Linked DNA regions of Homo sapiens: all the other regions are linked to region 2. Evidence: fine-mapped expression QTL. A gene starts in region 2. Each other region holds a variant in brackets. All regions are shown on one strand. Distances are from middle to middle. Region 1 overlaps RASA3 (RAS p21 protein activator 3). Region 2 holds the start of RASA3 (RAS p21 protein activator 3). Region 3 overlaps RASA3 (RAS p21 protein activator 3). Region 4 overlaps CFAP97D2 (CFAP97 domain containing 2). Region 5 has its middle 5.2 kb from the start of CFAP97D2. Region 6 overlaps RASA3 (RAS p21 protein activator 3). Region 7 has its middle 13 kb from the start of SWINGN.

The links. PIP is the estimated chance that this variant, and not a neighbour inherited with it, causes the effect. A credible set is the group of variants that fine-mapping cannot tell apart.
Region 1: its variant is the best candidate, but not a certain one, in a credible set for the expression of RASA3 in subcutaneous fat (TwinsUK, PIP 0.88).
Region 3: its variant is the best candidate, but not a certain one, in a credible set for the expression of RASA3 in monocytes (Quach 2016, PIP 0.57).
Region 4: its variant is the best candidate, but not a certain one, in a credible set for the expression of RASA3 in blood mononuclear cells (TOPMed, PIP 0.67).
Region 5: its variant is the best candidate, but not a certain one, in a credible set for the expression of RASA3 in T cells (TOPMed, PIP 0.85).
Region 6: its variant is the best candidate, but not a certain one, in a credible set for the expression of RASA3 in subcutaneous fat (TwinsUK, PIP 0.88).
Region 7: its variant is the best candidate, but not a certain one, in a credible set for the expression of RASA3 in T cells (TOPMed, PIP 0.76).

What each region holds. Positions count from the first base shown.
Region 1 is chr13:114,011,614-114,015,613 of GRCh38, reverse strand. It overlaps RASA3 (RAS p21 protein activator 3), which reads left to right. Exons shown (of 24, transcript NM_007368.4): 14 at 282-405; 15 at 2,366-2,472. Among named protein-coding and RNA genes, the nearest start is that of C13orf46, 40 kb to the right of the region's middle. The variant G/TAGAG (reference allele first, on the strand shown) is at 1,592.
Region 2 is chr13:114,130,422-114,134,421 of GRCh38, reverse strand. It overlaps RASA3 (RAS p21 protein activator 3), which reads left to right and starts at 1,799. Exons shown (of 24, transcript NM_007368.4): 1 at 1,799-1,987. The coding sequence starts at 1,933. LOC107987192 (a long non-coding RNA gene) reads left to right here and starts at 3,419. Exons shown (of 2, transcript XR_001750050.2): 1 at 3,419-4,000. RefSeq lists silencers at 1,494-1,593, 1,624-2,283 and enhancers at 2,076-2,703, 2,874-3,373, 3,664-3,923, 3,962-4,000.
Region 3 is chr13:114,099,328-114,103,327 of GRCh38, reverse strand. All of the region lies in intron 1 of RASA3 (RAS p21 protein activator 3), which reads left to right. Among named protein-coding and RNA genes, the nearest start is that of RASA3-IT1, 8.5 kb to the left of the region's middle. The variant T/C (reference allele first, on the strand shown) is at 2,035.
Region 4 is chr13:114,220,827-114,224,826 of GRCh38, reverse strand. CFAP97D2 (CFAP97 domain containing 2) reads right to left here. Exons shown (of 4, transcript NM_001395229.1): 4 at 1,742-2,326. The coding sequence ends at 2,320. Among named protein-coding and RNA genes, the nearest start is that of CDC16, 12 kb to the left of the region's middle. The variant C/T (reference allele first, on the strand shown) is at 2,225.
Region 5 is chr13:114,172,034-114,176,033 of GRCh38, reverse strand. No RefSeq gene overlaps it. Among named protein-coding and RNA genes, the nearest start is that of CFAP97D2, 5.2 kb to the left of the region's middle. The variant T/C (reference allele first, on the strand shown) is at 2,113.
Region 6 is chr13:114,056,707-114,060,706 of GRCh38, reverse strand. The region is part of intron 2 of RASA3 (RAS p21 protein activator 3); the gene reads left to right. Among named protein-coding and RNA genes, the nearest start is that of RASA3-IT1, 51 kb to the left of the region's middle. The variant A/G (reference allele first, on the strand shown) is at 1,971.
Region 7 is chr13:113,939,756-113,943,755 of GRCh38, reverse strand. It overlaps a transcript of C13orf46 not described here. Among named protein-coding and RNA genes, the nearest start is that of SWINGN, 13 kb to the right of the region's middle. The variant G/A (reference allele first, on the strand shown) is at 1,585.

The DNA.
Region 1 (4,000 bases), 120 kb after region 2:
GCAGGCACATTCTAGTGAACGTCCATTCCCCACTCAGTAAACGAGGTCGGGGCCGAGCCGGGGAGCCGACGTGGTGCCTGTGTAGTGATTTTCACGCGTGAATTGCCACAGCTCCCAGCACAGATTTCCAGGGAGTGGCTGTTCACACGTGTCTCACTGCCGCAGCTGCCCTGCGCCCGCCCTCAGCCCCTCCCCACGCGCCCCTCCCTGGGCGTGCCCTGGTGCTACACGCACCTGTGGGCAGCCTCGGGAGTGGGTCCCAGTGCCGTGTCCCGTTGCAGGAGAACCTACGGCAGTATGTGGACCGCGTCTTCCACGCCATCACTGAGTCTGGGGTGAGCTGCCCGACCGTCATGTGTGACATCTTCTTCTCCCTCCGGGAGGCGGCGGCCAAGCGCTTCCAGGGTGAGTGCCCTGAACACCCTCATGTTGCTGAGAAACTGCCATAGCGCTGTGCAGGGTGACTCCCACCCAGGCAGAACCCCCCGCAGCCCTGGCTAGACTAGAACTGCGGGGTCGTGAACCCCAGTTCCGATGCTGGATTTTTCCGGGGTTTGTGCCCGGGCCAGTGTTCCCTAGTTCACAACCGCAGTGGTCTCTGGGGGACCCCAGCCCTGGAGTTCACCTCCACAGTAGTCTCCAGGGGACCCCAGCCCTGGAGATCACCACCGCAGTGGTCTCTAGAGGGGCCCAGCCCTGGAGTTCACGACCACAGTGGTCTCTGGGGGGGCCGGGAAGGGTGGCCAGGCTTTGTCGGGGTGGAATGTGAATTTTCCTGATGTGGACCCCTGGGTTTTCCCAGTGGTTTCTTTTTGTGGCCGACCCTGGCAGGGCCCAGAGTGGTGTTGGGGGCTCTGCCTGCCCGTGTCTTCGAAGAGACAGGACCCCTGGGGGAGCTGCCCTTTCTTCAAACCCCCAAGCCGGAGATCCCCTAGGGACCTGGGCATCCAGCACCCAAACCCCACTTCTCAACCTTGCCGACCCTCAGGGAGGAGCTGGGTGCCTGCACCCACCCATCACCTGCGATACTCAAGACCCCGCCAGGACTCAGGCTATGTATGGGGCGCTGAGAGGCTCAGCGAGGGCCTTGCTGCCGGCTCCTCTCTTCCTTGCGTGTCCTGTGGCCTCGGGACAGCTGCAGACACCCCGGGGTGGCCATGGTCCTGCAGAGCCGTCCACGCTTCTGTGTCCCCAGGAGACAAACGCTGTCCCCACCCCTGATTCTCAGGACATCAGACAGTCAGACAGCGCCGGCCGAGGGGCCCAGGGTTCTGGGGGAGGCAGTTCCCAAGCACATCCCAGCCCCAGACCCACTTTGAACAAGGTGGAAGTGAAGAGATAAAACACATCCTCTCACCCAGATGAGCACAGACCACTGTGGAATGAGACACCAAAGGGGCTGCGCTGTGTGGTGGTGATGAGAGATGGAGAGAAACAGGGAGAGATGGAGAGAGAGGCAGAGACAGAAGGAGAGAGACAGAGAGAGACAAGGAGAGAGAGAGAGAGACAGGGAGAGACGGAGAGAGAGGCAGAGACAGACGGAGAGAGAGGCAGAGACAGACGGAGAGAGAGATAGAGACGGAGAGAGAGA[G/TAGAG]ATGGAGAGAGACAGAGACAGACGGAGAGAGATGGAGAGAGAGATCGAGACGGAGAGAGAGAGAGAGAGACAGAGAGATAGAGACAGGGAGAGAGAGACGGAGAGAGAGAGACAGAGAAAGAGAGAAAAAGAGAGAGACAGAGATAGGGAGAGAGACAGGGAGAGAGACAGAGAGATGGAGAGAGAGACAGACGGAGAGAAAGAGACGGGGAGAGAGAGATGGAGTTAGGGAGAGAGACAGAGAGGGAGAGAGACAGAGAGATGGAGAGAGAGAGAGAGAGCCAGAGACAGACGGACGGAGAGAGAGAGGGGGAGAGAGAGAGAGAGACAGAGATAGGGAGAGAGACAGGGAGAGGGACAAAGAGGGAGAGAGACAAAGAGATGGAGAGAGAGAGAGACAGATGGAGGGGGGGAGAGAGCCAGAGACGGAGAGAGAGAGAGAGAGACAGAGATAGGGAGAGAGACAGAGGGACAAAGAGAGGGAGAGAGACAGAGAGATGAGAGAGAGACAAATAGAGGGAGAGAGAGAGAGACAGAGATACGGAGAGAGACAGGGAGAGAGACAAAGGGGGAGAGACAGAGAGATGGAGAGAGAGAGGGAAACAGAGAGAGGGAGAGAGGGAAACAGAGAGAGGGAGAGAGACAGACACAGGTGGAGATAGAGCCAGGACTGTGGCTGGACTTCCCTGCGGACCCTCAGGGGGCCGGGGCATGGTGTCCCCACGAGGCCATTGTGCCCGAGGAAAACGGTCACCCTGCTTCTCTCTCCCGCAGATGACCCGGACGTCAGGTACACTGCAGTGAGCAGCTTCATCTTCCTGAGGTTCTTTGCGCCCGCCATTCTCTCCCCCAACCTCTTCCAGCTCACGCCGCACCACACGGTGAGTGACCGGCTGAGGGACCGAGGCTTTCTGAGCTGTCCTGCGACGCCGGCCTGGGTTGGGGCATCTGCGTGGCTGTAGGGGGCCGACCGTGTGGAGTGTGGAATGCGTGGGGAGTGTGTGAGGAATCAGGAGTGAGTGGGGAGTGTGTGTGGAATGAGGAGTGAGTGGGGAGTGTGTGTGGAATGGGGAGTGTTTGTGGAATGAGGAGTGTGTGGAGTGCGTGGACTGCGTGGGGAGTGTGGAAGGCATGTGGAATGGGGAGTGTGTGTGGAATGAGGAGTGAGTGGGGAGTGTGTGTGGAATGGGGAGTGTTTGTGGAATGAGGAGTGTGTGGAGTGCGTGGACTGCGTGGGGAGTGTGGAAGGCATGTGGAATGGGGAGTGTGTGTGGAATGAGTGAGTGGGGAGTGTGTGTGGAATGGGGAGTGTGTGTGGAATGAGGAGTGTGTGGAGTGCGTGGACAGTGTGTGGGGAGTGTGGAAGGCGTGTGGAATGGGGAGTGTGTGTGGAATGAGGAGTGAGTGGGGAGTGTGCGTGGAATGAGGAGTGTGTGTGGAATGGGGAGTGTGTGTGGAATGCATGGGGAGTGTGCATGGAATGAGGAGTGTGTGTGGAATGCGTGGGGAGTGTGTGTAATGAGTGAGTGGGGAGTGCGTTTGGAATGGGGAGTGTGTGTGGACGGTGCATGGGGAGTGGGGAGTGTGGAAGACGTGTGGAATGGGGAGTGTGTGTGGAGTGTGTGGACGGTGCACGGGGAGTGTGGAAGGTGTGTGGAATGGGGAGTGCGTGTGGAGTGTGTGTGGAGTGTGTGGACGGTGCGTGGGGAGTGCTGGTGGATGCGCTGGGTCCTGGAACGTCCTCGTTGCAGGTGGTTCACCGACCTATTTAAGCTGTGTACGTTCTGGGGGAGTCGAGACAGTGTCACAAAAGCAGTGGACGGTTTGTCCAGGGTTTTAGCTGCTGGTCACCGCCCTGCTCTCCTCCCCTGCCCATCACATATGGAGTATTGATGATCGGCGTATCATCCGTGTATTGAGTCAACAGATTCCTATTTAGCACTGATTTTCTCCAGGCCCCAATGTGGTTGCTGGGGCCGCAGCTCTCAGGGTACAGGGATCTGGGGTGACCGTGTTGCACGTGCGGGTGGCAGAGCTGGAAGGAGATGGCCAGGGCGAGAGGACGTGAGGGATTGCCCATTCCCCAGCACTTCTTTTTTTTTGAGACAGAGTCTTGCTCTGTCACCAGGCTGGCGTGCAGTGGTACCATCTCAGCTCACTGCAACCTCTGCCTCCTGGGTTCAAGCAATTCTCGTGCGTCAGCCTCCCTAGTAGCTTGGATTACAGACGTGCGCCACCACGCCCAGCTAATTTTGTATTTTTATTAGAGATGGGGTTTTACCATGTTGGCCAGGCTGGTCTCGAACTCCTGACCTCAAGTGATCTACCTGCCTCGGCCTCCCGAAGTGCTGGGATTACAGGCGTGAGCCACCAAGCCCGGCCCCCAGCACTTCTGAGTTGAACCTTCAA
Region 2 (4,000 bases):
GAACTGCTTTTTAGGAAGTGAAGGTAAGCAGTGGAAAAAAATAGGCCTCTATCTTCATGAAGCTCCTGTTCCTCTCCATGCAGTGTGTGTGTGTTTGTGTATGTTCACGTAGGTGTGTGTATGTATGTTTAGTGTGTATGTCTGTGCATGTGTATGGGTAGTATATGTGTGTGCTGTCTGTGTTGTGTGTATATGAACATATGTGTTCATGTGTATATGTGGTGTGTGTATGTAGGGTGTGTGTATATGTGTGTATATGTATGTGTGTACACGTGTGTAGTATGTGTGTGGTGTCTGTGTGTGGTGTCTATGTGTATGTATATGTATATGTAGTGTATGTGTGGTATATGTATGTGTGTATATATGTGTAGGGTGTGTGTGTGGCACTGGGTGCAATGAAGTTTTGCAACATAGAGGAGGGAGTGTAGTCTCAGTTCATATACACACCTACAGTTCATACACACACACAAACATACTCCTCAGAGAGGAGGTCAGGGAGGAGGAGACCTCGAGACAGAAGAAAGGGAGGTAAGGGTGGTACCTGCCCATGCTGGGGTCTGCAGGGGGACTGGGGGGGGACCTGCCCATGCCGGGGTCTGCAGGGGGACTTGGGGGGGGACCTGCCCATGCTGGGGTCTGCAAGGGGACTTGGGGGGGGACCTGCCCATGCCGGGGTCTGCAGGGGGACTTGGGGGGGGGACCTGCTCATGCCGGGGTCTGCAGGGGGACTGGGGGGGGACCTGCTCATGCCGGGGTCTGCAGGGGGACTGGGGGGGGACCTGCCCATGCCGGGGTCTGCAGGGGAACTGGGGGGGGACCTGCCCATGCCGGGGTCTGCAGGGGGACTTGGGGGGGGGACCTGCCCATGCCGGGGTCTGCAGGGGGACTGGGGGGGGACCTGCCCATGCCGGGGTCTGCAGGGGACTGGGGGGGGACCTGCCCATGCTGGGGTCTGCAGGGGGACTTGGGGGGGGGACCTGCTCATGCTGGGGTCTGCAGGGGGACTGGGGGGGGACCTGCTCATGCTGGGGTCTGCAGGGGGACTGGGTGGGGGAGACCTGCCGGTGCCGGGGTCTGCAGGGGGACTGGGGGGGGACCTGCCCGTGCCGGGGTCTGCAGGGGGACTGGGGGGGGACCTGCCCATGCCGGGGTCTGCAGGGGGACTGGGGGGGACCTGCCCATGCCGGGGTCTGCAGGGGGACTGGGGGGGGAGACCTGCCCATGCCGGGGTCTGCAGGGGGACTGGGGGGGGGAGACCTGCCCATGCCGGGGTCTGCAGGGGGACTGGGGGGGGGGAGACCTGCCCATGCTGGGGTCTGCAGGGGGACTTGGGGGGGGGACCTGCCCATGCCGGAGGTCTGGGGTGGGGGGCTGTGTGTGCGTGTATGTGTCCCCGCCCCCCTCGTGCGTCTGCAGCAGGTGCCTTCGGATCGCATCTCAGGAGCTGGGGCTGGGCGCGGGATTCCTCCCCTGCCAGATCGTTGTACGTGAACTTCTCTTGGCAAAGTTCGTCCGCGAGTCAATCGCTCAGCCTCGCTCAGCGGGCCCGGGCCGCGCCGGCGACCTTCCTTCGTCTCTTCCGCCAGGCAGCCCGCTGGGGTCCCTTCCGCTCAGCGGCCAATCCGCGGGGCGGGGGCGGGGGCCGAGGCCTCGGGGGAAGCCGATCCCTGCGCCCCCCGGGTCTCCGCCACCCGCCAGCGCCGTCCCTGCCAACCCCGCCCCTGCAGGGCCCGGGCCAGTTGGGAGCAGGGGCCGGGCCGCGGGCGGAGCCTCCCGGTCCCCGCCCTCGCCCTCGGCCAACTGGCGGTCTTGCAGGCGGGCGGACCCTCGGCCGCGCTCGGGGCTCCGGCGCCGCCGCTCCTCCTGCTCGGCCTGAGCTGCCCGGGCTCGGCGCGCGCTTGGGGCGAGGCTCGGCGGGCGCGGACGCGCAGCATGGCGGTGGAGGACGAGGGGCTCCGGGTCTTCCAGAGCGTGAAGATCAAGATCGGTGAGTGTCCGCCGGCAGCCACGCGTCCGACCCCCCGGCCCGACCCTGTCCTCTCCCGCGCCCGCCTCCCCTCCGCAGATCCTTGCTGGGGACCCCGGCGGAGACGCCCTCCAGGCGCGGCGCGCTCCCCGGAGAACGGCTGGTCCGGCTCCGCGGCCCCTCCCCACCTCCCCGCCTCCCCGGGCCTCGGGCTGGGTCGAGTCGGCTCCGGGGTAACGCGGCTCCCTGCGCCTCCTCTGCGCCCGGAGCGGCCCCGGTCCCTGGTAGCGGCGGAGGAGGTGGGGTCCCTGCGCCGAGGGACGTCTGTCCGCGTGTGCGCCCGAGCGTGTGCCCCGCGTGTTTGCAGGAGTGCGCGCGCCTGAGGCTGTCTGGGCGCCTGCACTTCAGGTGTCAAATCCACTGACGTCGGGGTCTCGGCATCTCCCTTTCTCCGCTGCGCCCAGAAACTTCCTTTCCGGGGAATGTGGAGGCTCCTTCACGCTTCTCCCCAGGGGCGTGAGGCCCCGGCGCGCTGCTGCTGCTGTGCGCGCGCGTCTGTGCCTGCGTGCGCGCGTGTTTGTGTGTGCTTGTGTTTGTGTGTCCATGTGTGGGCGGTGTGTGTGCGCGTGCGTTTGTGGGTGCATGTGTGGGTGCGTATTTGTGTGTGGATGCATGTGTGCGCGCGTGTGTATTTGTGTGTGGGCGCGTGTGTGTGCGCGCGTTTGTGTGTGTGCATGTGTGCGTGTGTGCTGGTGGGGCGTTCTGGCTGAGGGCTCCCGCGGGGCGGGGAGACCCCGGACCCATCGGCACCACGTCCCTTTCCACTGAGAAGTGGCGGGCGAGCTGGTGGCGACCAGGGCCTGCGAGGCTGCGGTTTTTCTCTGGGCTTCAGCAGCTTCTGAAGTGGGCTCCCGGAGGCGTTTCCGGAGAGGAGGCTGTGTCTGGACTTCTGGTTTATCTGGAGGGATCTGCTTTTCCCTGGTTGTTTTATCTTGGGAGAGTGATGTGGAAGTCCTCCCCCTCCCCCAGAGCAAGACCGTTTCCTGGAGTGACTGTTCCATATTCATGCCATGAGTGTGCTGGACCACAGCGCGGTTCAGGCTGGAGAGGCTTCCAGGGCCTGCAGTGTCGCGGTCCCCACGGTCCTTCTCCCCCACTGAGCCGCACTTCGCAGCCGGCCTCTTCCCGTGTGAAGAGGCCTCCGGGAACGGGCTGAGTGTCAGTTGTTGATGACATTTGATGCTGCCGGAGGCATTCCAGCTCCCCTAAACCAGCGGGCTGTTTCCTGTCGGCTTTATTTTGGTTTGCGGATCATCGCTGAGACACTGTCTTGATATTTGGCCCAGAAGCGCTGCAGCTAGGATGTGGCAGCACTTCCGCTTTGAGTAGTCCAGAGAGGAGGGATTTCTTTTGTTAATGTGGTTTAAATCCGCTGTCACTTTCATACAAGAAAGCCAGAGCTGGCGCTCCCTGAAGTGCCTGAGGTCGCCTTGCCTGGGTGGGGAAAGGTCGCGGCCCGTGGGGGTCAGTTTGCTGCTCTTTCCTTCAGCCAAGGCTGCTTGGCTCAGCCAGCGAGTCTGAGGAGTGTGAGAAGCACTGGGCTTCCTCAGTCACGGGGGCAGGAGGGCTGGAGGTGGGTGCCCCTGTGGGGCAGTGCCAGGTCTCCAGGCAGCAGGCAGAGGCGGCCTGGGGCTTTGCGGCTCGGGGGTGGGGGGCCCACAGCCGGCACAGCATGCTCGCTGTGTACTCCAGGAAGGGCTACACTTCAGGCCACGGCAGGACTTTACAGAAGGCATGGGAAGTAGAACAGGAGGGCGAGGGAAGACCAGAGTCTCAGACCAGATACTCAGACCCTGAGTCTCCCAGAAGGCAGCTTCACCGGCCTGCGGGCACTCGGCCCCACTTCCGACAGGCGTGGGGGTCAGGCACCCTGGAGGATCCCTCGGAGAGAAGGAGGTTTGGAGATGCCACAACTTGGTCAGGCTCTGTGCTCCACTTTAAACAAGCCAGTGAAACCCTGGCTCAGCTGAGGCT
Region 3 (4,000 bases), 31 kb after region 2:
TTCCCAGACACCCCGAAGGGCCAGGGCAGCCTTCACTGTGCTGAGGCTGGCTGTGGTCTCTTGGGCATCTCTCCCGACTTGGGCCAGGTACACAGTGGGGTAGGGCGAATGTGCACACATTTCCGGTGGACTTGGGGGAGACCCTCTAGGTCTCCTTGAAGCACAGAGCCAGTGCACCTGGCTTCTCTGCCAGACACAGCAACAGTCACGGCCATTGGCCACAGCCACCTCCACGACAGCCACAGCTGCATTTCTCCCCCTGGGGCCGGCTGCACCGGAGCTGCCCACGTGAGTGTCCTTGGCTGACAGCATCGCAGCCTCACTCTTAGGGGTGAGCGAGCAGCAGGGGTGGTTTGGTTCAGGGACCCCAACTCTGGGAGCCCACCTGCCTGGGGCTGGACTCAGGCCCCGTGTTGCCTTGTGGGTGGGTGGGTGGCACTGCCGGCTGCGCCCACGGCGATTATACAGACGACTTGGTCTTCCCGTCGTCCCCAGCCCACAGGACTCCAGCCTCCACAGGCTTTGCCGCCCTCCCCAGGGGTCAGGAAGCCCCGGAGACCATAGGACAGAGGTGGTTTAGTCGGGAGCGTCGCCCTGGGGGTAGGTGAGGCAGGACAGGCAGTGACGCCGCAGCCTTGGCTGTGACACCACCTGGTGGGCTGCAGTCCCACTTCTGCCCCTGCCACCGGCCATGTGGCCTGCTCACCGCCCTGGGCCTCAGCATCTTCTCCTGCAAAATGGGGTCGTGATGGTTCCTGAGAGTTTGTGTGTAGAGGGCAGTGCTGGCACAAAACGTCAGAGACAGGGCCCCTCGCACCTCCTGCCCGTCCCACGCAGCTGCACCAGGCTCTGGGGGAGGGTGGGACCTGAGCTTGGTTCTTCTTGTGGGAAGCGCTCTCACTCCCTCTCTGTCCCTCTCCCTCTCACCGTCTCTCTGTCTCCGTCTCTCTTCCTCCTTCACTCTCGCTCTCCCCCAGCACAGGTCCGACAGTCTGGTTCGGTGCCCGCTGCTCTGCCGCCCTCTGGGCTCCTGGCTGGGGCTCTGCTCTGCTTCTCAGCCCGCTGCCTGCCCACTGCCCGCCTACCGCCCACCTGCTGCCCGCCTACCACCCGCCCGCTGTGGATCCTGTGCTTCACAGCCCCCGTCTCTCTGTTTTCTGGCACTGGAAGAAGACACTCTTTTTAAGACAGTCCTGTGACTCACAACCAAAGGGAGGTCAAGTGCATTTGCACAGTTGTATGCAGTCTGGGGGTCTCCGCTCAAGGCTGGGGACTGTGTGTCGGGCAGGTCCTTCGGTGCTGGGCACGGGGTCTTTCACCCTGTAGACGTCGCTTGTGGGGTCCTTGGAAACTGAGACCCCCGCTCCCCACTTTCTGATGAGAGGGCCCCGTCTGTCTTTATGCCATGGTCCAGGGTGAGTTGATTTCCTTGTGCCGTGGTCCAGGGTGAATGATGTGCCACATTTCCTGGGAATGACATTTTCCGTATGTTTTCCAGACGGCATTGGCATGGCCCACTTTGGAATCCAGCAGGTGACTTCAGGGCCCACAAGCCTCTCACCCCCAGGACCCCGGGTGCAGCCACAGCAGTTAAGGGAGACACTTAGACACTGCCGTCTTCCCTGGAAGCTTCCAGTTCCAACTCCGGGGCTGTTCGGGTTTCGTGTATTTCACTGCTGGCTTCACTGTTTTACCAACAGGGCTGACTTGGAAACGAGGACAGCCAAGCGTGTTTGCCAAGGAAAGCCCGGATCTCCGGCGTGCAGTGCCGGCTGGGGCCCCTGGCATGGGTCAGGGCCGGGATCAGGCCCCTCCAGGTTCGGATTGTCCATGGGGTGGTGCTTAGACACTGTCTCAGGGCGGGGCCCAGCACGGGCAGTGGCTGGCAACTCTCCAGCCCTGAGGGGTTCCTCCTGCCTCTGTCCTTCCTGTAGAGGTGCAGTCCCCTGGTGGGCCGTGGGGGTGCAGGGGGTGCTGGGGCCACTGCCTACCCGTCCTGGTTGGGGGTAGACCTCGCTGGGCAGAACCCCTTCC[T/C]AGCACATGGCCCAGGGGTCTGCTTGCCAGTTGGATTTTCCCTTCCCTTCCCTCTGAAATTCCCTGGTTCTTCAATTTTGGTCCCTTTTTCTGGGCCTCTCTGACTTGTCTGTAACAGAAGTGCAGAGAGGTTTGGTGGCTGCCGTTGGCCGGGACACAGGCCTGCAGAACCCGCCTTGCTGGTGACTGCACAGGCCATCCATGTGGGTGTGGGGAGCCCCTGTCCCTACACCCCCGGCTGCTCCTCAGGCCCCCAGGTGTGTCCAGCCTGACACAGGCTGACGCTCACCCCCTCACCTGCGGTTTCAGTCACATGTGGTCAGCCGTGGTCCAAAAATGTTAAATGGAAAATTCTAAAAATAAGCAATTTCTGAGTTTTTAAAATTGTGTGGCATTCTCAGTAGCAGTTGAGGCCCCGCAGTCCACCTGTCAGTCACTAGCAGCCTCTCCAGGTGGCGAGAACACAGACGCATGGGGCCCGGGCTCCACGGCTTCCGGTGTCCCTGGGGCCTTGGAGTGTTTCTCGAAGGGTACACAGTTCCCAAACGGCTGGACATTTAAACAGGTCCGGGCAGCAGAGAGACCGAACCAGCCTGGGATTTTCCGAGTTGAGGCTGTTTGCCCAGGTGTCCTGGTGTGGGATGTGCTTTCTGGCATTTTCCATGGAAGCCACGTCAGCCGCCTTCTTCCCAACTGCTAGGGCCGGCTGCTGCACTTGTCTTGGAGGTGGTTTCCAGAACAAACTTCCAGCCAGCCGTGGGGCGCAGCGCAGGGGGACTGGGCCCAGACGGGGGTCCCTGGCTGCTCTGAGCATCACGTCCTCCGCCTGACAGAGCCCTGCCTCCAGGACCTTCCTCCCCTTTCCAGGCCACGCTGACCAAGTGCTTTGCAGGCGGGCGGCTCCTGGGTGTTGCGCACAAGAGTCTAAAATCTCCTTTCAGAATGCTTGGAGGGTGCTGTGCACCCCATGGCCGAAGCTCTGAGGGTGCCCCAGGACGCAGTGGGGAGGGTCGGGGCCGAGGGGCAGCCGCTGGTGCTGGCACAGAGGCATCCACATCGGCGCGCCCTCAGCACCGCGGGCCGGGGCGGGGCAGAGTCAGAGCTGCGTCTCCTGCGAGCTCCTCCATTTACCATTCGGCGTCTTCCTATTGCGCAGAGTTTGGAAAGCCTTGCTGTGTTCAGGTGTGGCAGTGTGGTCTCTCCACCCTGGCCTGCCGCTCTTCCAGAGCAGACGCTTTGCAAACCTGCAGTTTTTCTTGCTTGATTAGGACAATAGTTTTTAAACAGCATTAGAGTTAAGGAGATAAAACTGTGCGTGTGAGCATCGAGTGGAGCATGTGGGGGCTGTGGGGGGCTGCAGGGGGGCTGTGGGGGGGCTGTGGGGTGGGGGCTACGGGGGGCTGCTGTGGGGGGCTGTGGGGGGGCTGCTGTGGGGGGCTGTGGGGGGGCTGCTGTGGGGGGGCTGTGGGGGGGCTGCTGTGGGGGGCTGTGGGGGGGCTGCTGTGGGGGGCTGTGGGGGGGCTGCTGTGGGGGGCTGTGGGGGGGCTGCTGTGGGGGGCTGTGGGGGGGCTGCTGTGGGGGCTGTGGGGGGGCTGCTGTGGGGGCTGTGGGGGGGCTGCTGTGGGGGGCTGTGGGGGGGCTGGGGGGGCTGTGGGGGGGCTGTGGGGGGGCTGCTGTGGGGGCTGCATCTCAGGCGCTGACCCTGCATTTGGGCCAGTTTTAAACAGAGCCGTACTTAGGTCCCAGGCAGGGAGGGAAAGGAGGGAGACGCGCTGTGTGAACACAGGTCTGAGAAGCGCTGACCAGAGGCCTGAGTCATTCCCGGACACCCCGGGGAATCCAAATGTGCCTGGAAAGGGAGAGGCAGTCGCCCTCCCTCCCCGACCCAGCACCCACCCACAAGACACGCTATTTCTGTACCGTCCCTGTGTGATGGAGGCCTGGGAGTGGCTGCAGCCCCGCGTGT
Region 4 (4,000 bases), 90 kb before region 2:
TGTTCTCAGGACCAGACAGCAGCCTTTCTAGTTTTGTGATAGATCCTTTGACGTTCATTGCATTAGGGCCCATCAGGGAGGGCTGGCAGAGGCCAGGACTCCTACAGCACAACCCTTGTGGGGTGGAACAAGGTGGGGACACACAGGCAGGCACATTCGGAAAATGCTGCCAGAGTCAACCCTAAACTGCCACCTCGAAAAGGAGGTGCAAATTCGAGGCTTGCAAACCAAGGACACAAATCGCTATGGAGAGGCCATTTTTTCCATCAAGTTTAGCACAGACGTGGACTGTTAATGGAGGTCCTGTGCCCAGTTGCGCTTCACGACACAGGGGGGCGGGGCTGCCTGGAGAGGTCATGGCTGCAGTGGGCAGAGGCCCAGCTCCTCCCGGCCCGATGCCGGCATCTCAGGCTCCAGCACCACCTGCTGCACAGGAGAGGCTTCGGGAGGTCCACTCGGGGGATCAGCAGGAGACCCAGAATCCACATCCAGGCCTGTCTGACCCCACAGTCTGTGATTTTAAACACTGTCAATGGAAGGTCCACCCTGAGGAGCGGTGAGGAACCTGGGATTGCCGAATTCTGCATGGAGGAGCCGGAGGCAAGCTCTGCTATTCATGTCAAGTGTATTTTAAAGGGGCTTGTGCATAAAGGAATGAAATAAGGAATGAAATTAGCTGCTGCTTCTTTTTTTTTTTTTTTTTTTTTTTGGTAGAGACGGGGTCTCATCATGTGGCCCAGGCTGGTCTTGAATTCCTGGGCTCATGCGACCCTCCCACCTTGGCCTCCCAAACTGCTGGGAATGTAGGTGTGCGATACCATGCCCAGCCTGAAATTATCTTCTTATTTTCATTCAAACAAAACAAAACAAAAATTTAAATCTATAATATAGGTTAAAAATAGCAAAGAGTACTTTGGGAGGCCAAGGCAGACAGATCACCTGAGGTCAGGCATTCAAGACCAGCCTGGTCAACATGGTGAAACCCCGTCTCTACTAAAAATACAAAAATTAGCTGGGAGTGGTGGTGCATGTGCCTGTAATCCCATCCATCTCAAAAAATAAATAAATAAAATAAAAATAATAAATAAATAAATAGCAAAGAGTAGTTAGGGACCGTGACATTTCTGAGGGGCTAGCTATCAGCTCCATGAGGCTGAGACTACATATGCAGAGTTCTGTTGAATGAATGAAGGTGTGTGTGAGTCTTTTAACTCATTTTTAAAAGGCATTGCCCATGGGCTGATGTTCATTGTTGTGGAACAGCTTAGGCGGGATCTTACCTGGGGCTGATAGAGAACTAAGCAGATCCCAAGGGCTCTCAGACATACCCTTGATGTCTCCAACCGAGACTCTCTGGGTCCTTTTTTCTTTTCTTTTCTTTTCTTTTTTCTTTCTTTTTTTTTTTTTTTTTGAGATGGAGTCTTGCTCTGTCGCCCCGGTTGGAGTGCAGTGGCGCGTTCTCGGCTCACTGCAACCTCCATCTCCCAGGTTCAAGCGATTCTCCTGCCTCAGCCTTCTGAGTAGCTGGGATTACAGGTGCCCGCCACCATGCCTGGCTAACTTCTTTGTATTTTTAGTAGAGATGGGGTTTCACCATGTTGGTCAGGCTGGTCTCGAACTCCTCACCTTGTGATCCGCCCACCTCGGCCCCTCAAAGTGCTGGGATTACAGGCGTGAGCCATCGTGCCTGGCCCTCTGGGTCTTTTTTATATCTTAGGTTATGTATTCTGGAGTCAAGCTGTAGTTTCATCACGTTCAAAAATTTTAATCTGATTTATTTAGATATTTGTTAAAGGAACAATCACAGAGCTTTTAAGGTAAGTTAAAAATCCACCTAGGAATTATAGACAAATCCACCACAGCTCAAAATACAGTAACAGAATAAGTCTTCATAGCTAGAGAAAACAATCTAATTCAAACCCTCACCTCCTAACATGACTCTGCATAGTTTGTTTCCAGTTATCAGAGTCCAAGAAGCACAGAAAATAGTTTTGCTGCGTCATCTGCTCGGGCACATTGTTGAAACACCGTTTGAGGAGCTGCCTCCTGGGCACTTCACAGCTGCTCCGGCTGTGATAACAGTGAAGAGAGGAAGACAGCGGGGCTGCCCTGGCCCCGGCCCTGGGCAAGGCTGATTCCCCACACTGCCCTGAGACCGCTGGCTGTGTTAGCCTGGGGGAGCTCATGGCTGGCCTTGTGGGTCTTCCTTGTGACTCCCTCATCA[C/T]ACTTGTCTTCTTTCTGGATTTGTGTTCTGAATCCTTACCCTTCCTCACTTCTCTTTTAGGGTCCAGGCTTGGCTGTGCGCTTGCTAATCCAGTTTCACTTCCTGCTGGATTTAAAATACATATTTGAAACTAACGCTTTCTTAGGCAAGAACAAGAAACTATCAACTTACTTGGGAAATGGAATATTTCAACTCATTGACAAGTCTTTACTTAGAATTAAACATACAATTTTTAAAATAACAGCTTTATTTAGATACAATTCTATACCCCTTTATAGTGTATATTTTAGTGTGTTTTGGTATATTCAGAGTTGTGCAACTATTGTCACAATATAATTTCAGAACATCTTCATCACCTCCCCCTCCAAAAATCAAACTCCTTTGGGATCACTCCCCAATTTCCCTTCCCCCAGCCCCGACAACCACTGATTACTTTTTGTCTCTTTGAATGTGCCTATTCTGGACATTTCATATAAAAGGGATCAGACAACATGCGGCATTTAGTATCCAGCTTTTTCACGGAACATAATAATGTCTTTAAGGTTTATCCATTCTGTAACTAGTATCATTCCTTTTTATGGTAGAATAATATTCCATTCTATGGCTATACCACGTTTTATCTGTTCATCAGTTGATAGACATTTGGGTTGTTTACACCTCTTGGTCATTGTGAACTGTGCTGCTATGAACATCAGTGTATGGGTTTTTGCATGAATGTATGTTTTCAAGTCTCTCGAATATAGACCTAGGAGTGGAGTTGCTGGGTGATTTGGTAACTGTTTAACTTTTTGATGAACTACCAAACTGTTTTCCAAAGTGGCTGCACCACTCTTTTTTTTTCTTTTCATTTTAAGTTTGTGTACCTTTTATTTCATTTCCTTTTTTTTTTATTACACTTTAAGTTCTAGGGTACATGTGCACAATGTGCAGGTTTGTTACATATGTATACATACCACTGTTTACCCCTACCAGCAGCCTATGAGGGTTCCAGTTTCTCCACATCCTTATTGTAATCTACCTTTTGATTGCAGACAAGTTAGTGGCTGCAAGTGACATCTCACTGTGGTCTTCATTTGCATTTACTAATAACATTGAACATCTTCTCATGCACTTATTGGCCATTTGTATATCCTGTTGGGAGAAATCTCTATTCAAATAATCAGATAACCTTTTGTCAGTTTTGTTGTTAAACATCTTTCTGAAATGCAGCAAAGTACTTTTCCCGGAATCAGTAAACTGAGCCATGTTGGCTTGTTGCTGGATGGTAAAGGGCCTTCAGGAGGAAAAAGGAAAGAAACTCAAATTTATCTTTTGCCAAGTAAGTGTGAGTCACTTTTTTTGTTTTTTTGTTTTTTTGAGACGTAGTCTCGCTCTGTCGCCTAAGCTGGAGTGCAGTGGCGCGATGTCGGCTCACTGCAACCTCCGCCTCCCTGGTTCAAGCGATCCTCCTGCCTCAGCCTCCTGAGTAGCTGGGACTACAGGCGCACGCCACTACACTCAGCTAATTTTTGTATTTTTAGTAGAGACGGGGTTTCACCATGTTGGCCAGGATGGTCTCGATCTCCTGAAATCGTGATCCGCCTGTCTCGGCCTCCCGAAGTGCTGGGATTACAGGCATGAGCCACCATGCCCAGCCAAGTGTGAGTCACTTTCACAGTCATTTTTGCAAATGTTATTCACTTAACCCTGACGTGAGGTCCAGGAGGTGGTTCCTGTCCCATCTTTAGAAGCGAGAATGGGGCTCCCCGAGGCTGAGCTTTTGTCCGAGATGATGGT
Region 5 (4,000 bases), 42 kb before region 2:
GTGGAGAATTATTTTTTATACTGGGCTAGGTTTGGATGTTTGGTATTATATAGTTTCTACTTATATTCTACAGAAAGTAAATACCAACGCCTATTTTTGACTTTGATTATCCAGATTATATTTGGGTGTTCAGCTGCTGCCTTAATCAATATTTTGGCCCAATATTAAGTTTAACGTTTTGTTTCTTAGAAATGCCTTGAAATGTCACCAAGTGATATCCTGAAATGTGGAGGCCGTTACATAGAACAGCTTACTATGTTGCATGCAATATGTAAAGTATTTGCTATATGACACATATTAACTCAGTCTTTAATATTCATAATTCTTTTCCTGTGTCCTTAACTCTAAATCCAAGCTTTGATTTTTCTGTTCTGCCCTCCCACAAAAGGCCGTATCTTCAAAACCAAGCAGCAACTTCGTTCTCATTCTGCAGAAGAGTGGTTTACAAACAAATCTCCAACCACTTCAAATTCACTCAACCTTCAACCTTTGGAGGGCAAATGTGCTTGCAAACATTGATTTCCAGAAAAGGTAACTGTGTCTCCAGTACCTTCTGTGTAGTGCAAATCACTCAAGAGCTGAGCTAAAGAAGCTGGGAGTCACCACCACCAGGAACTGCTGCGTGACCTGCTTAAGTCGACCCTTCCACTGAACAAAGCCAGAATCCTGGAGGCCATCTTGCATATACTGAAGAGCCCACCCAGGAGTCAGGAATTTTGAGGCTGTGGTCAAAAAAATCTGTCAGACCCCCGAGCCAGCACTCAGAGGGCTTCTCCTGAAGGCACTCAGGATGCCAGCGGTGGGGTCTTTGTGGGGGATGGGGCAGGTGGGCAGTCTTCATAGGAGCTGAAGTCTTCACCCTCAGGAAAACGTGGATCAGAAATAACCCATCCTTCAACAACTGCCAGGTTACAGCAGAGCAGGGGACAAGACAAGGAAGAGCCCTGCGGCCCAGGTTCACACAGTTGTGAAATTAGCTTAATGTCACAGTGCCTAAAAAACCCTCAAGTCGCGAAATTATCTTAACGTGGCCCTGGACTGATGACATCTCAAGATGCTGCCAACTTTCCAGTGTCTCAGTGCACCAAACATCTTGCAAAGTGAATCAATCCTGCAGAGAAGACACGACTAGCACCACAGGAACCTTGGAGCAGATGGCTCAGACACAGATGATAAGACTCACTCTGCTTCAAGGCACAAAAGACAAAATCGGAAATAGCTGCAGAGTACAGGAAACCATAAAAGTTTTCAATACAGAAAGAATGTTTACAACATTTGCAAAATTTGACCGTATGCTGGGCCATGAAAAAGTGTCCACATGTTTCAAAGGGCTGAAATCATACAGATAATGTTCACAGTGGCAGAGAGCCAGGAATTCATAACAAAAGATAACTGGGAAATCCCATGTTTGGAAACTAAGCAATGCAATTCCAAGGTCAGGAACAAGACAGGGATGTCCCTGTGGCCTTCCCTGATACAAGAGGAGCTCTTTGGATTAAGTGGATTAATGTGTTAGGGGTCTTGAACTGTCCACCTAAAAGGAAATTCAAAGGAACAGGCTCTCCAGAACAAATAAATTTAAGTGAGAATAGCACGGGATTGCATGCTATGATAGATCACAGGCACACTGGAGGGGCCAGGGCAAAGGGGAGATCTTTAAAGACAGAGAGAACTCCACAGAAGCTGCTTTGTAACAAAAATCACTGGTTAGCAGAGCTTGTCCCAGAGCTGGCGTTAGCTCCTTGTGCAGGCCGCTCACCTGTAATACCGACCTGTCTTGAGGAATTTTCGTGCAATGCATCCTAATATGGGCGAACCTGAGGCCCGTGCAGGGGTGCCTTGAGATGAGGCTTGTCCAGGTGTTTGTGTATGAGGGCGCCCCGTCATGGCCTCCCCACCCCATTTTGTTAGAGTTTGATATGAGTGAACCTATTTTGGTACTAGCAACTTTCACAGAACAGAAGGAGTTCAATTTGCTGGTAATTAGTCATGGTGGTGTTAACTGCAGCCTTACTCATGCAATCATTTCTCAAGAACCCTATTCCTGGGACGATTCACTTAGGTCTCAATCCCACTCTGGAAATAGTCTTAAAAAATTGATGCAGAAGCATG[T/C]GAAAGCTGAGTGTATAAACACATGAATTCCAGTGTCACTGGTTTACTGTTGCACAGAGCTGGAGCTGGGCCCACTCCACACAGAAAGTGATGGGGTGTGGTGCAGCCACTCTTGTGATGACTGGAAAGACAAACCCAGCAAGATATGCACAAAACTGCTCCTTTTACCAGTAAGTGGGGAGCTGAGCCCAGAAGATACCTTGGAAAAACTTCCTCTTACTAGCATGTGAGAAGCTGAGACTGGAAGACACCTTGGTAAAGTTAATTTGTTATAGGTGTGTTAAAGCAACTAAATATGGCCCAAGAAGGACTCTGTACTTCCAGATTTATGAGTCCTTGTGGATAAACTGCAGCCTAACTTAATAGGTAGACAAGATTGAAAACCTAATTTAGGAGTCTGAGCCTGTAACAACAGCTGAGTCTTGGCCAATTCCAGCAGCTGTACTTCAACCACTCACCCTGCTGAGTGTCCAAACTGTGTTCAAATAAGGCAAACCCTGAGCTGTAACCAATCCAGCTGTCTGTACCTCACTTCCAATTTCTGTACGTCAGTTCCCTTTCTTTGTCTATAAATATTCTTCCACTACATGGCCGTGCTAGAGTCTTTTCGGATCTGCTGTGATTCTGGGGGCTGTCCAATTTGTGAATCCTTCATTGCTTAATTAAACTCCTTTAGATTTAATTTGGCTCAAGTTTTTCTTTTAATAGATGGTGTCAGAAGTGGGATCTGATATTGTAGGGGTTATAAAATTTGGCTTTTGGAAATTCACAGGGATTTTTGTGTTCCACCCCTTTGTTTCATTTTCCCTGTGCGCTTAGGTAGAAAAAAATCATTGGTGTATTAATCTGTTTTTATGCTGCTGATAAAGACATACCTGAAACTGGGAACAAAAAGAGGTTTAATTGGACTTACAGTTCCACATGGCTGGGAGGCCTCAGAATCATGGCAGGAGGTGAAAGGCACTTCTTACATGGCAGCAGCAGGAGAAAAATGAGGAGGAAGCAAAATCAGAAATTGCTGATAAGCCCATCAGATCCTGCAAGACTTATTCACTATCATGAAAATAGCATGGGAAAGACCAGCCCCCATGATTCAGTTACCTCCCAATGGGTCCCTCCCACAACATGTGGGAATTCTGGGAGATATAATTCAAGTTGAGATTTGGGTGGGGACACAGTAAACCATATCAATTGGCTAAGTTAATCAAGGGAATCTGAGAGTAAAGCCAATATTTTAGGTAAAAATAGGATCCTTTTTTTTTTAAAATTATACTTTAAGTTGTAGGGTACATGTGCAGAACATGCATGTTTATTACATAGGTATACACATGCCATGGTGGTTTGCTGCACCCATCAACCTGTCATCTACATTACGTATTTCTCTTAATACTAATGCTATCAAAAATGGGATCCTTAGTTTCTAGAAAACTGAGTTCCTTCTGGCTTATACATTAGGCCTGGGAGGCCATGAAGTCTTAAAGAAATGGCAAAATCTTACTAAAGGTAACTTACAGTGGAATGTTCCAAATGAACAATGCACAAAAGTGCATTTAAAAATGAGGGTTCACAAATTAGTCTCATCTAGGGATGCATATTAATATGCAGAAGCTTTTAGAAAGATTTAGAGATGATGGGGCCAATCTGGGGGCAAGTTTGAGCCTTGCCAGTTTGATATTGGGGGCAAAGCAGAGTGGCTAACATCTATGTTTTGTCACATGTATTTTGCTCTGGCCAGAGCAGAAAAAGATAATTTTCCTTTGTGCTGTGGCTTGGCTGCATTGGCTTTGGTGCAGCAAGCCGGGTCAGTGGGGCCCTCGGGGAAAGGGAACCCAGAAGCCTAGCATGCCGACAAAATGCTAAGGATGCCTCGTGAGTCAGAGAAATCCTG
Region 6 (4,000 bases), 74 kb after region 2:
TCCGGGCGTGCGCGGCTCCAGCTGCGTCCTGCCCGCCTCTCGCCTCACTGGAAGCAGAGCGGAACGGGGCGTGTCCGGTCCTGGCCCTTCGCGTCCCCGCAGGCCCGTCACCTCCTGCAGGAGCCCCTCTGGCTTCCCGGCAGTCTTGGCTCTGCCAGAACTGAATTCCTGTCGTCCCCATGAGGACAACCAGGATTTGCTCGGCACCGTGGCCTCTCGGGCTGACCGCTGCACCTTGCTTGCAGAAAGCCCCACCTGTGGAGGCTTGGGTGACCTTCCCTTCCTGGTCCACTGTGCCAGGTCTGGGCAGCTCCTGGCTGCTGACCTGAGACAGGTGATTCCTCCCTGCATGCCCACTGCCCCATCCGTGCATCCGTCCATCCAGTGTCTTGCACGGGCCTGCATATTCCCAGCTGCTGTGGTGAAATGTCTGCTCTGCACCACGTGACCTCGGCTGCACCCTGACCTCTGACCTCGGCTCCCAGCATGCTCCGGTCCTGCCGTGCCCTGCCCAGGCCACGTCAGCCTTCTCCTTGCTCCTACGTCTTTACCACACACAAGCCCTGCTGCCTCGAGGCCTTCGCACCTGGTGTCCCTCTGCCTAGACCCCTCCTGCGCTCTCCGCGCCGTCCATGGCCTCATTCATGCGTTCCCTTGTCCTCCTGCGGGTCTCCTCACCGTCCACAGCGCTGTTCAAGCGCTCACTCGTCCGTAAGCCTCCCTGTCCCCCGAGCGAGGCCACAGTGCTGCCCCCGCCAGCCTTGCCCGCGTTGGACATTCGTGGTTCTGTGTGCTCTTTGGCTGGCTCCATGGGGCCAGGACTTTGCTTCATTGGCTGCTATTCCCACAGTCTAGAACGGGGATGGGCAGCTGAAACAGTCATGGAGAGAGAGAGCGCTGTGGTTTCTGGGTCCAGTGAGCCACGCCTGGCGGGGGCCAAAGACATCGAAAGTGCTCCCCGTTGTTTGGTCCTGGTGTGTGGGAGGCCCTGCCATGTGCTTGTCTCACTGTGCAGGGCAGAGGAAGAAACCTCCAAGCCAGGCAGTGGTGTGTCCTGGGGAGGCCGCTTTGGGGGCAGAGCCACTGCCCTTCCCCAGCCGAGCGCCCTCTGTGCCCGCAGGCTGCACTGTGGAGAGGGCGGTGTCCTGAGGCTGAGAGATGAGGGAACTGGCCTCTGGCAAGGCAGCGTTGAAACGTGGACGTCCCCATCTTCAAAGTCGTGCTTCCCCCGGCAAGGCCCGTGTGGGCACCTGTGCCTCCTGGGTACCTGTGCCTCCTGGGTACCTGCGCCTCCTCGCATTGGCTTCAGCGACGTCTGTCACAGATTCTTACATTTAGACGTGCCATATAGTCTTCCTGGTGGAGACCAACGTCCCCTTGGCCTTGTGAAGCTTACCAGGGCCTGAATTAGGTTGGGGGGAGCAGCTGCACCTGGGGACTGTGCTGTGAAGATGCAGGAGGGCCTGACGGCGGCTCCTCCAGGCGGGACTGTGCTCTGAAGATGCAGGAGATGCAGGTGTTTGGTTTTTTGAGACAGGATCTCGCCCTGTCACTCAGGCAGGAGTGCAGTGCTGTGATCACAGCTCACTGCAGCCTGGAACCCCGGGCTCAAGCAATCCTCCGCTTCGCTGCAGACGTGCGCCACCAAACCCATCTAATTTTTAAATTTTCTGTTGAGTTGGGGTCTTGCTATGTTGCCCAGGTTGATCTCTAACTCCTGGGCTCAAGTGGCGCTTCTGGCATGGCCTCCCAAAGTGCTGGGATTACAGGCGTGAGCCACTGCATCTGGCCTGGATGCAGGTATTTAAAAGAGCTTAGGGAAGTTCTTCGAAAAAGGCTCTGGCCTTCAACTCCCACTTCTACTCCTGATTTTGGTTCTCATTGGGATATAAGTTTCAGAGCACTCCTGGGCTCAGGAGAAGAGCAGCTCCCCTGCGAGGGGCAGGGTCACCTGTGTCCACAGCAGCAGG[A/G]CTTGGTCCCTGGGGACTGCGGGTCGGCATAGTCCAGGGTGCCCATGACCAGTCCTCCGAGGAGCAGGGCCTGGGAAGGGCATTGTCGGGCAGGCGAGGACGGGCATGGTTGCTGGTCTGGGCATCAGTGGCATTGCTCTGAGAGGGAAGGAGATGCTGTCCCAGCAAGGGTGGCCTCAGGTCTGGACCCTCAAGTGGACACCGTGTTTTGGCTCTAGGACTGGCATGGCCCAACAGGATTTTCTGCAAAACAGGAAATGGTCTCTGTGTTTTCCGTCCGGTCTGGTGACCACAAGTCACGGGCTGGTGAGCACCCGAGGAGCTGAATTCTGTGGTGGGAATCCAGGTTCGGGAGAGGTCGTCAGGCAGGTGTGCAGACAACGTGAGTGGTGAGCCTCACGCCCGAGGAATCCGCTCTTCCTGCTGGACGCGTGGATGGTGGTGACGGCCTCGCCGCAGCAGCAGCACCTGGAGCTGGCCCCTGCCGGGTGGGTGGTCTCCATGGGGCTCATGGCATCTCGGGGGTCTTGGGGGGATGTCACTCTGGTGCTCCGTTTGCAGGTACAAACCTGCCATTCTAGGAGCTGACTGATGATCCCGGTCCTCGCCCCTGTCCTCACACCCCTGAGTGGTCAGGCAGGGGCTTCACTCGGCTGGTTCTGGCCTCCGTGCTAAAATGAATGAATAGGACAGGACAGTGAGGAAAACGCACACCTGGGGAAGTGACCTGGGAACTCACCACCCCCACCCACCTCCGGGACTCCGACCTCCCAGGGCCTCAGCCAGGCCCTGCCCTCTTCAGCACATTGGAAACACCTGCATCTACCCAGTGTGCGCTAGGATGGCAGCTCTCCAGCCTCCATCCTGCAGGCCGAGCCCGCACCCCAGGGAAGCCATTGTTCTGGGTCCCCTCGTGCTGAGCGCCCTGGCCAGAGGTGCCCCTTCCAGGTCTGGGTGTGGTTGGCGGAGGTTTTATGGGTTTTAGCTGTGGGTTCATTCTCAGAGGTTAACTGCCCCCAGAAGGTGGGGAACCGCCTCCACTCTCCTCCTTGAGCTGGGGGTTTTACATTCTTCCAGGAGTTTCTTCAGGGCTCCCTGGCTATGGCATCGTGGCCTTGGGTGTCAGGCTGGCTCTGTGCACAGTCATTGTGGGGAGAGGTTTCCTTCCTGTGGGGGCCTCCACTGTCCCTGGAATCGCCCTTCTTATTCCCTAAATAAATCATCGGTCTAAGAAGCTGAACGAACCCTCTATTCTGGCACAGAGACTGGCTCCAGCTTTCCTTGAAATCCTGCAGAGCCTTCATTAAAATGAGTGCAAGGCCTGTAGCACGGCCGCCTCTCCGGACCCCACTGCCCTGCAATGCCTTCTGCTCGTCCAGCTCGTGGGAATGAAGCTTGGTCACAGTGGTTGGTGGCTCAGAGCTCCGTTGATAAGGCTGGCCGGCCGCCTGCAGATGTCCTGCCTGGTTTCCTGAAAGACTTGAGGTGACCCGCAGGAAACAAAGTTAGTAATAACTTTATTACTTTAAGTTTAAAAAGTTATATGAAATAAGAAGAAAAACATTAAAATAGGCAATTGGAACCACTAGAATAAACGACATCAGACATGCAAAACACTCACCCATCGCCTGTGCTGGAGCCTGTTCTGGCTCCAGGGTTCTCAGCTGCAAATGTGTAAAATGGAACTGTGAGTGTGACGTTCCCCTTCTTCAGGAGGGGGGACCCGTGGTTCCCAAGGACAACAGCTCCTCTTAGCAGGGGGGGCAGCCTGACAGAGGGCCCCAAAGCGCTGCCTCCCCTGCTGCGATTCAGGAGCAAGGTTCTAAAGCCATTGCTGGAGAAATTCCTGGGTGGAGGCTGGAGGAGGTCTTGCTCCCCAGGGGTAGTGCAGCAGGGCCATGCTGTGTTGCTATAAACCGCTTTTACATTTAGAAAGGGGCACGTCCAGTCTGTGGTGATAATTTTATGGAGTTCGTATGTTTTCTTGTAGCTTCCTCTTTCTGCTATTTTTATCTCTTTTTATTGAATGG
Region 7 (4,000 bases), 190 kb after region 2:
CACTCGTCATCACCCACCAACAGAGCGTAAGCCAAAAATAAAACACTAAGGTTCCCAACCATCTGAGTGGACCTCGTCCTCACCAGAGCCCTCTTAAAATGTAACCCGAGAGGTGGTTTCCAGCCATGACGGGAACGGGGGTCAGACATGCCTCGTTCTACCTTTCCAGCATTAACGTCCACACAGACCTGAAGTCTGATGAGAAACATTTCACAGCCCTCTGAAGCTGCTACCTGAAGGCCTCCTCCACAAATAAGAACCTGGGTTTCCAGGATCCTGGATCTGAACTCAGGCATTCCTTTCTATTATTGATCCCAGGTCTTTAGATAAATGTAACCAATTGTCCACCGGAAAGTTTTTAAATCTTCCTATAACCTGAGAGTTCTGCTCCCCTGACTGCTTTGCATTGCCCTGCCTTTCTGAGCCGAACCAGCATATTTCTTAAATGTATTGCCTGAAGTCTCATTCTCCCTAAAATGCATAAAAGCAAGCTACTCTCTGACCACCCTGGACACATGTCCTCAGGCCCTCCTGAGGGCTGGGTCATGGCCCACGGTCACTTGTCTTGGGCTCAGAATGAATCTCCCCACATTTTACAGAGTTTGACTCTTTGTTGACAGGAGCCAACGCTGCTGTCTGACCCCGGCCCGGAGCTCTCCCCGAGCTCTCCTGTGGGAGGCAGCCATTTGCAGAAATGGAGCCGAGCCTCAGTGGGACTGTCAGGGCCCAGGGACCCGAGGGGCCAGCGCTCCCTGAGGGCAGGGCTCAGCATCCACCAAGCGGGCCTTAGAGAGCCATGGCCGCCGGCCATCTGCAGTGCTCGTGAGGGGCACTGACTGCTCCCACCTGGCTCCCACCTCACCTCCGGCGGGCACTGGGGCGCTGTGCCTTTCTCAGAGGCATCAGGGAGTCCAAGGAGACGCCAGAGGACCTGTGTCCCATCCTCAAGGTAAAGGGCACAGTAACTGGCTGACCGATCACCAACAGGCCGCCTCCGCTGCCTGGAGCCCGCTGGCCCAGGGGTTCCTACCGCGCCCTGCCGTCTCCCTCATCCTCCCTCACTGCATCCAGACACCCAGTCCCCTGGTTGCCCGTGCCCGCGTCAGCTCTGGCCATCCTTGTCCTGGGGGCTGGGCATGGATTTTGCTGTCTCGTGTTCTCAGGACTGTATGAAGTCCAGCCCATTTGGCAAGCATCCTGTGGAGGTAAGGCTGTCTCTCAGTGGCTCCTGAGCTGATGTGTCCAACTACAGGTCCAGGTGGTGTCTGCCGAGTCTCCTGGTCAAATCGCCGTCCTTCCTCTGTAGGGGATAATCGTCCTGGAGACACTGGGAGACCAAATCCTGATTCTCCTGGAACTTCTCTGATTTTGGCATCCATGGGGGTCTTGTCAGCAGCAATCAGTTCCGTGGACTTTGACTCGTGGTGATTTTCTGTTTCCCCATTTCCTCAGGCATTTATCCATCGAGGTTCTCCTGCAGGGAAGAGCAGTGGGTCCCTCCTCCCGGGCTGCGTGTTGACCCGGCCAGTGGCGACAGCAGCAGAACTCATATGCGTCTATTGTATTCTGTGGTTTGTGAAAAGT[G/A]TAGGTCAGTGACCACAGTAGTGGATTCTGTGGTTTGCAATCAGCACGGCCTCTGTGCGTTTTGTTGCTCATGCCACCATGATCGGCCTTTGGCAGCTCTTCATGTTGGCCCCTGTGACCTTCACAAGCTCTTACTTTTTAATTAATTAAATCTGGGGGTGAGCCTCCGGCTCTGGGCTCCACAGGACTTCAGCTCATTGCAAACTTCCCTGCTCTGGAGGAGCAATGAGTCAGCCGCCGGCAAGGACAGCCCATTTGGAGGTAAAGTGCTAAGGGGAGAGGAAGGCGGTGAGAGTAAAGCAGTGGCAGGAACTGCTCAGAGGACAGGTGACATGCGGAGGCCTAGGGCAGACCTCGTCCAGGGCGCTGGGCAGGTCCAGGCAGGTCCTCCAGGCCAGGGACCCTGCGCAGCTGCCTTCTGGGTGGGGAGAGTGGGGGCAGCACCCAGGGTGCCTGGCGTGCTGTGCTGAAGGCCACCTGCGAGGCTGGAACTGTGTCTCCATCTGACAGGCAGAGAAACAGCAGCAGCCCAGCCTGGGAAACGATGTCAACAGCTCCTGTTTCCAGCACGTTCCTGGGTCTCAGACGCCCAGCCTCACACACAGAGTCCCAGAGACCAGGGTATCGAATGCCCAGCCTCACACATGGAGTCCCAGAGGAGATCAGGGTCTCGAACGCTCAGCCTCACACATGGAGTCCCAGAGACCAGGATCTCGAACGCTCAGCCTCACACATGGAGTCCCAGAGACCAGGGTCTCGAACGCTCAGCCTCACACATGGAGTCCCAGAGACCAGGGTCTCGAACGCTCAGCCTCACACACGGAGTCCCAGAGGAGACCAGGATCTCGAACGCTCAGCCTCACACATGGAGTCCCAGAGACCAGGGTCTCGAACGCTCAGCCTCACACATGGAGTCCCAGAGACCAGGGTCTCGAACGCTCAGCCTCACACACGGAGTCCCAGAGGAGACCAGGATCTCGAACGCTCAGCCTCACACATGGAGTCCCAGAGACCAGGGTCTCGAACGCTCAGCCTCACACACGGAGTCCCAGAGGAGACCAGGATCTCGAACGCTCAGCCTCACACATGGAGTCCCAGAGACCAGGGTCTCGAACGCTCAGCCTCACACATGGAGTCCCAGAGACCAGGGTCTCGAACGCTCAGCCTCACACACGGAGTCCCAGAGGAGACCAGGATCTCGAACGCTCAGCCTCACACATGGAGTCCCAGAGACCAGGGTCTCGAACGCTCAGCCTCACACATGGAGTCCCAGAGACCAGGGTCTCGAACGCTCAGCCTCACACACGGAGTCCCAGAGGAGACCAGGATCTCGAACGCTCAGCCTCACACATGGAGTCCCAGAGACCAGGGTCTCGAACGCTCAGCCTCACACATGGAGTCCCAGAGACCAGGGTCTCGAACGCTCAGCCTCACACACGGAGTCCCAGAGGAGACCAGGATCTCGAACGCTCAGCCTCACACATGGAGTCCCAGAGACCAGGGTCTCGAACGCTCAGCCTCACACACGGAGTCCCAGAGGAGACCAGGATCTCGAACGCTCAGCCTCACACATGGAGTCCCAGAGACCAGGGTCTCGAACGCTCAGCCTCACACATGGAGTCCCAGAGACCAGGGTCTCGAACGCTCAGCCTCACACATGGAGTCCCAGAGACCAGGGTCTCGAATGCCCAGCCTCACACATGGAGTCCTAGAGGAGACCAGGGTCCCAGACGCCCATCCTCACGCAGAGCCCCATAGGAAACCAGCACCTGCGTCTTCTGTCTGGGTGGCACAGGGAAAGTGCTTCCCCTGGGAATACTCGGCTGGCATCCACCCCGCCAGTGTGTGCTGCAGGCTGGCTCATCTGGGGGTGGGGGGCTTGGCGGCAGCACCGCAGGGTCTAGGGGAGCCCACCTGGCTCTGGCCTCCTGCTCTTCGCTTCCGGGGAAACGGCCCAGGCCCCTGCTGCACACTCTTCCTTCCCCTCTTCAGTAGTAAGAGGAGCCAAATGCGGCTGACGGTGCATCTGAGGCCGAGGCGCAGCCCCCGCCCCTGGGGTGGACTTTGGCCGCATGGGCAGGGCCAGGCAGGCAGGTAGCCTCTTGGGGCCTCTGAGGTGGCCCGAATGCCTCCCCTGATCACGGCTGCCACCCGGGCATCCTGGTCCCCCTGCGTCAGAGCCCACACACATGACAGACAGGAGGCTCTGGCTCAGATGAGGCCAGCGGCACTTCCTTTCATCCTGCCTGGCACCCGGTTTCTTGATGACCCAGGCCAGTGTTTTTCACGCTGAATCGTGTTTGACTTAGAAGCACATGGGATGATCCCTTTGGCCTTCCCAGCACCTCCTGAGAAGTATTGTCATCAGACCTGTGAGCATGAGATGGCGCTGGGCCCAGAGAGGTCAGTGCCCTGG